Homo sapiens: one gene and its partner. The protein of the gene in region 2 purifies or fractionates together with the protein of the main gene of each other region. This does not show direct contact. Each region holds a gene or a part of one and is shown on either strand. Other genes may lie near its edges.

The links. The genes of interacting proteins can lie anywhere in the genome.
Region 1: the proteins of LRRC37A2 (region 2) and DUSP29 purify together in Homo sapiens (affinity purification with mass spectrometry; one large-scale study listed by BioGRID and IntAct). This does not show direct contact.

Annotation. Positions count from the first base shown.
Region 1 is NC_000010.11:75,070,843-75,074,922, forward strand, and holds the start of DUSP29 (dual specificity phosphatase 29), read right to left. Parts: upstream 2,801-4,080; 5' UTR 2,727-2,800; intron 2,392-2,726; exon of another isoform or gene 2,260-2,391; intron 1-2,259. UniProt on the Homo sapiens protein: Dual specificity phosphatase able to dephosphorylate phosphotyrosine, phosphoserine and phosphothreonine residues within the same substrate, with a preference for phosphotyrosine as a substrate. Involved in the modulation of intracellular signaling cascades.
Region 2 is NC_000017.11:46,515,468-46,518,967, reverse strand, and holds part of LRRC37A2 (leucine-rich repeat-containing protein 37A2 isoform 1 precursor), read right to left. Parts: intron 2,267-3,500; exon of another isoform or gene 1,955-2,266; intron 1,875-1,954; exon of another isoform or gene 1,854-1,874; coding exon of another isoform or gene 1,735-1,853; intron 1,607-1,734; coding exon 1,535-1,606; intron 1-1,534.

The DNA of each region.
Region 1 (4,080 bases), on a different chromosome or scaffold from region 2:
CCCCCTCGTTACTGTGGAACGGGTAGGCCCAGAAACGTGAATGGTCACCAGAAGAGGAGATTAAAACACCATCTGCTCTGAAATCAGGCCGAAGAGGACAAACAGCTAACTCCTGGCCCAGGAACCTGGAGTGGCTGTTTCCAGGCCGGGCCTCCCTGAGACAGGGGCCCTGGTTGGAGTTTAGGGGTTGAGAGGAGTAGGAGAGTGAGATGCCACCAGGCCTCTACCCCAATGAGAGGCACCAGAGCAAAGGGGCTACACCCCGAAACTCTGAGGCACGCTGGGTTCTGGCCTCTGCCCCTGTTTAGGCTGCATGACCTTGGGCAGAACACTTAGTATTTGTGTCTCCGTGTCCAATCTGAAATGGGGCTGTGCTGTCCATCCCTCATTAAGCTGCTGCAATTCTGAGGAATAAATGATTCCTGCTTGTCAGGAAAGCTCTTGGAACAGTGCCAGACACATAGCACAGGAAACACCGCCAGGCCTCGGGGCCGCAGTGTCTGGGGAAGGCTTGGTGGAGGCTGCTCACCCCCACCCTGGTGGACTCAACTGGGCCTCCCTGGGGCTGCTGGAAGATGCTCACAGCCCAGCCCCTGGCCTCAGGGCCTCCCCTAAGCCCCTCATCTACTGTGGGGTCAACAACAGCCACGGGAGTGCCACCCGCAGACAGGACCAGGTTCCCACCCAACCCAGGTGTCAGCCATGACTGAAATGTCCCCAGTAAGGGCTCCAGTTTGTCTGATGGCAGAGGACCACTGGCTCTCTCCTCACCCTCAGCGCAGATCTGCCTTTGCCCATGAAGATCCTTCAGAGCCAAGTGAGATCCTGATACCGGAGGAGGGCCAGGAAGTGCTGGGTAGAGAAAGGCAGGTCCCTGGCCAGGGCTCCACCTCCACAGACCCAGGTGAGGACAGGCACTCCTGCCTTCGCACCCAAATGTTATATTTTCCAAGACCACCCTGGCCCGCCACACCCCAATCCTGTGCCTATAAAAACCTGAGACACACAACCGGCTGGACGTACTGAGGAACACATAGGCAGAAGACACAAGCGGCTGGTTGTCAAAAGCGCGCCGGCAGAAGATCACGCCGACAGGCACTGGCAGGCCTGCAGGCCATTGACAAGCGGAATGATGCGGAGTTTGGCCAGAGCGGTTGGAGGAGAAGAGTCGGCTGCTGAGTGGCCCAACTCCAGGGAAAAACTGTCTCCCTTCTGGCTCCCCCATCTGCTGAGAGCTACTTCTACTCAATAAAACCTTGCACTCTTCTCCAAGCCCACATGTGATCTGATTCTTCCCCTACACCAAGGCAAGAAACCCCAGGATACAGAAATCCCTCTGTCCTTGTGATAAGGAAGGAGGTCTAATTGAGCCAGTTAACACAAGCCGCCTATAGACAGCAAACTAAAAGAGCACCCTGTAACACACACCCACTGGGGCTTCAGCTGTAAACATTCACCCCTAGACACTGCCATGGGGTCAGAGCCCCACAGCCTGCCCGTCTGTATGCTCCTCTAGAGGTCTGAGCAGCTGGGTACTGAACAAGCGAGCCACACCCCCGTCGCATGCCCTGTGAGAGGGACAAAGGAACCTTTCCTGTTTCACTCCCACTAACTCTCCTCAGACCCACCCCATGTCCACCCCAGCCTCCATGCCCAACGCGCCTTCCTTGTTAAGAACTCAGCTCAGAAGCCCTTCAAGTGTTGTTTATTAATGTCAGAGTCCTCGGATTTGTCGGTGGGACCAAATGATATTCTCATGATGAGAACAAGGAGGGATCACAAGCTAAAGGTGGGGGCAGCGGAAAAAACATCCAGGGCCAGGGACCCTCAGGTGCTGGCGGCCGTGAGTGTGGCAACCTCTCCAGACATCCTCCTCGTGCCCTTCCTCCTGTTCGCTGGAGCATTTTCCGCTTTCCCGAACGATCAGAGCCCCCGGGCCCAACTGTTCTTGGGTTCCAGGCCCATGAAGGGACCCCTGGGGTCACAGCACAAGGGCACCAGGGTCTAATGGGAGAGCCCTGGTCTGAGACGCAGGCCCGTCCCACTTCCTGCCCACACAGGTCTGAGACACAGGCCCATCCCGCCTCCTGCCCACACGCGGTACAGCCTACACTCTTGGTCCAGTGGCTCTGATCCTTCATGACCCAGTCCCACCCCCCATCTCTACCACGGCAGCGTCATCCCCAACCCCATCCTCCCACCAGGACTGAGAAATGCTCCCAAACCCGCCACTCTGTCCAAATGACGCTTTTGTGTTACCTGGGACACAGGGAGAATTCTCATCCCTGGAGCTTTAAGTACTTTCTTGTCTTTGATGCTGCCCTACACAGGATCCGAGTCACTCCAGGGCCTCTCTCTCTCTCGCCCCCGAGATTTCTCCCCCTTTACTGGCTAAATGGACAAACGTAGAACCTCGTTGGAATGTGGAATATGATACAATACATCCAATGCTTCACAAGGGCTCGATGAGCTTTAATCCACCCCATTATCCTTTAGAAATGGTCGTTGAACTGGAAGTTCAGATTTGGAGAAAGGGAAATGGAGAAAATTCCATGGTGTCTCTCGTAAAAGGACAGCAAGAAACCTTTCACACTAGAAGGAGGTCGGCTATTCCCCACAGCACCAGGAACAGGGTGGAAAAGGGGCTTCTAATCCCCACACCCAGGCCCCCAAAGAACACGTGGGTGAACCCAAGGGGTGCCGGCCTCCCCACCCAGCGGCCTTACCTGGGTGTGCCGGGGCCTGGCCGCGTCGGGAGGTTCTGGTCCGTGGGGCATGTAGCAGCCGCACGCCCAGCCACCCCCACTGGCAACAGAGGCCTATTTTTAGGGTCAGATCTGCTGACGCTGACCTTGCGTGCCGTCCAGTCTAAGAGGAGACCTATGACATCTGCTTGCAAAATGATTTTCCAGTGCGACCTGAAACCCTTGACTTAGGAAGCCCTGTACCTGAAGCCTACACGCTTGTCCCCGGCCCAGCCACAGAGGCAGGACATGTGGCCACCAGGGCAGGGACAGACAGGAATTTTCCAACTTTGTTTTCCTGGGATGGACGAAGCCAGGTGTCTACAGGCCCTGCCCTGAGCCCTGTCCCAGAACAGCTAGAACAGGGGAGGTTTGCCCACTGGCACAGCTCTCTATTCCAGTCTTTTCTGAGAGTTTGTGGAGCTATCTCTGGGAGGCCAATGGAATGGATGCCACATCACACAGGGTAATCAATGAAACTCTGGGCAGAGTTTGTGCTGTGTGGCTTCCAGTGAGACCCCAGCAAGCACCCAACCATGCTGGGCTTCAGTGGGGATAATGATCATAATATCCTCCTCTTACATTGCTATGAGGACTGAATGAGATAAAGAATTTGGTGGTATTAGAATATTTAACAGTCTCCAGTGAGCCAAGATTGTGCCACTGCACTCCAGCCTGGGTGACAAAGCAAGACCCTGTCTCAAAAAAAAAAAAAAAAAAAAAAAAAAAAAATATATATATATATATATATATATATATATTTAACGTTAACAGTCATTAACAGTCGTTCCCAGGTCTCTCTTCTTGGCCCTTTCTTCTGTCAACCTTCCTCCTCAATGGCTCCAGAGTTCTTTGCTCTGGGATCCCTCCCACCAAGCCCTACCAATGTAGCCCCGCTTTTTAATACTTACGGGCAAAATCCTGCCCAGTCTCCTCTAATTTTCTAGTAAAATCTTCCCAGGGCTTGCTACAGTTCCTTATAATGAATGACGTGGTTCTCCATTCGTATCCATCCTTGTCATCCTCTCTGGGGCATGCTTTAGTGTGTGAAGGACTGGGAGAAGTAGGGAAGGAAGCACCAGGCTCCCACATCTTTCACTTAACACAATCTTCTTGCATTGGGGTCATTATATTGTCCTCTGAAACTTTATTCACCCAACCAAAGATCTTCCTCACAATTTGCTACATTAGCTACTGCCAGTTTAATTTATAGCAATTATTTCTACTAGTACTATTCATTGCTAAGTGACTTAGCTTTTATTGATTTCTTGGTGTGAGGAAAATTCCCAAGGCAAATACACAGAATCTGAGTGTACAATGAAGTCAGAATGTCAGA
Region 2 (3,500 bases):
CTCCCAAGGTGCTGGGATTAAAGGCGTGAGCCACCGCGCCTAGCATATGTTTATTTTTAATTTAGAACTCATCGTGGCTTGTCTATATACATTGGAATAATGATGTGACACACAAACTGTTGTGAAAAATGTCAGTTACTTTGAATGTAAGCATTTTTTCCAAAATCACTTATGTGTCTAAACCAATTCCTTCTATAAATCAGTAAGAAAATGATAAAACAATTCAACAGGAAAATGAACAAAGGCCAGAAAACTCAGAGAAGAAACACAAATGTTCAATAAACATATAAAGATACTAAATTAAATTCATGAGTAATCAGAAAAATTCACATTTAGATGGAATCCCTTTTATTCATCCATAACTTCAGCAAAAAGTTGGAGAATACCCAGCGGTGAAAAGGTGTTGGGAAATGAATGCTGTCATATTCTGCTGACAATAGAGTAAGTTGGCACAAAATTTTTGAAGGCAATTAAAATTTTATATCTACATAGTCTTCACCCCAAGAATTCCATTTCCAGATATCTATGCTACAGGAATACTTGCACATGTTCACAAAGAAGCATGTACAGGGATTTCATTGCAGCAATGCATGTAACAAGAAAACTAAGCATAATCTAAACATTCATCAATGGGGGAATTATTAAATAAACCATGATGCATCCATACTATGGATTATGCAGGAGTTTAAATGAATGGGGTGACCCTCTCAGTACTGGGAAGGAAAGAAATCTAAGGCATATCATGAAGTGAAAGAATCAAGTTGCAAGATGTTACCCTTTATGCGAAGAAAAAATTTTAAAACCACAAAACAAATCTATTTTGCTTTATGTAAATATGTATGTAGGTAAATGAGGAAAAGTCTGGAAGCATGTATACTAAATGCAGAGTAGCATTACTTCAGGGATGAGGGAGTAGGGCACAAGGAGAGTTTTTGTTATATCTGTTATTGCATTTTTATATATTAAAAATGGAATCATGGGCTGCGGGTGGTGGCTCATGCCTGTAATATGAACACTTTAAGAGGCCAAGGTGGGAGGATCACTTGAGCCCAGGAGTTCAAGACCAGCCTAAGCAGCATAGGAAGACCCTGTCTCTACAAAAAATACAAAATTAGGTGGGTGTGGTGGCATGCACCTGTGGTCCCAGCTACTGGGGAGGCTGAGGTGAGAGGATCACTTGGGCCTGGGAGGTGAAGGCTGCAGTGAGCTGTGATTGTGCCACTGCACTGCAGCCCAGAGGACAAAGTAAGACCCTGTCTCTGAAAAAAAAAAAAAAAAAAAAAAAAAGAGAACAAAAAGGAATATAACCATGTACTATTTGTATGATAAAAAATAAATTTAAATTGCCTCTTATTTTAAAGAGAGCCTACCAAATTTAATTTTAAAATAACCATACAATTGCAATCAACAGTGGTTGATTTGGGGCGTGGAGGAGAAATATCTTTCCTCAGAGGTACCGACCTCAAAATTCTGGACCAAGAAGGATCTTACAATGCAGTTAGCTTTTTGTCATATTTGGAGAGAATATACTCACAGTTTCTCGGTCCAACTGTATGCTTTCCATACATTTCCATCAATGTAAGAAATATAGTTTCCTTGGAAATTTCTGTGAAGAAACACAGTTTATATCCTTGAATAGGTAGGAAAACAATGAACACGATAAGTAAAAGAATCATTGCAATCTTGTTGGGGATATTCAGAAACAGAAAATAACACCTGCTTTCTCATTTCCAGAGCTATCAGCTTCCCAGTTTGCACAATTCATCAAGAAATTATGCGGGGTCACCGGCACAAATGATGAGGCATCTCCTGGAAGCTTAACTTCTTATCCATCCCATCTCTTGGACAGATGATGCCAGTTAATTACTTTGAATGTAAGTATTTTATCTAAAAGCACTTATGTGTCTAAACAGACTTCTACAAATCAGTACCAAAATGGTAAATAATTCCACAGAAATATGGGCAAAAGCTTATCATTATCAACAAATGAGAAGAAAGAAACCCTATGCCAGGTAACACCAAAGCTTTGGCCCAGTGCCCTCTGTTGAAACATCCTAGGCTTTTTCTTTCCACTCCTATTACAACTGATCTGATTTGGCCCCTTCACACCTCACTCCTAGATTTTGCTAGACCTTTCTATTTTGTCTCCCTGAATTAAGCTTTTCCTTTTGGACACTTTACATATGGATTCTAAAACAATCCTCTGCATGTCTACACTTGCACATAATGCAAAAAACAAAATAAAATAATCTTCCTGTTTTGATCATGTAATCTCTCTTGCTTGGAAACTTTCAATGGCTTTCCATACCTCATTGTGTAACTTTCAAACTCCTGTAGCTGATAATCAAGGTTTTACAGAATCGTATCTTCATTGCTCCCTCACCTAATTCTTTGTAGCCACATTGGTCTACTAAATTCCAACCATACCTGTAGCCATGCGTTTGCCTAGACTGTACTCCCATTTTTCTCCTATTTAACAAATTATGGCTACTCTTTAAGACCCAAGTAAAGTTTTAGCTTACCCATGTAGCATCTCCACACCTCAAGGATCACAGATTCTGGCAAATTCTAGCACCAATGGTCTGCATTATCTTTTAGTACTTAATTATATATACCTCCCTTTTTATGCCTATTCTCTTTCTTCCCTCCTATCATTTTTTTTTTTGAGATGGAGTCTTGCTCTGTCGCCCAGGCTGGAGTGCAGTGGTGCAATCTCGGCTCACTGCAAGCTCTGCCTCCCAGGTTCATGCCATTCTCCTGCCTCAGCCTCCCGAGTAGCTGGGACTCCAGGCACCCACCACCATGCCTGGCTAATTTTTTTCTGTATTTTTAGTAGAGATGGGGTTTCACCATGTTAGCCAGGATGGTCTTGATCTCCTGACCTCATGATCCGCCCGCCTCGGCCTCCCAAAGTGCTGGGATTACAGGCGTGAGCCACCACACCCAGCCTCTTCCCTCCTATCATTTTCGTGTTCTGGAGACAGTAGCATACTTGGCCCTGGGTTTGACATAAAACTAGTTCTACATATAGAAAGCTAGGGACAAAAATGAGTTCTGGACAAAACTAAAGGACTGAATAATCATGTGAACAGCCAACTCTCCTACATATGCTAAGCACTGATGAAGTGTTTCATATATTCACTCACCTAAATTTCACAACAATCCTATGAAATGCTAACTAGCATGATCCCCAGTTTAAAGGTGAGGAAATTGAGTCACAGGCAGAATAACTTGCTCTGGGTCACCAAGCTAATAAATAGATCTGGGTTCAAACCCAGGCAGCCTGGCTCCGGAATCAACTCTTAACCACTTAGAGCATCATCACTGAGATCGGGAGAGGGACAGGCTGCTGTAAAGAGGGTGAAGCGAAAATGGGAGGAGAGCAGCGGTTAAGCAATGATGTGATGGGGCTAAATAAAAATGGATACAAAAACGAGTAAAAGACCAGAGTAAAAGGAAAAGACTGGAGAAGGGGCCTAACATTAAAAGAGAATGAGGAG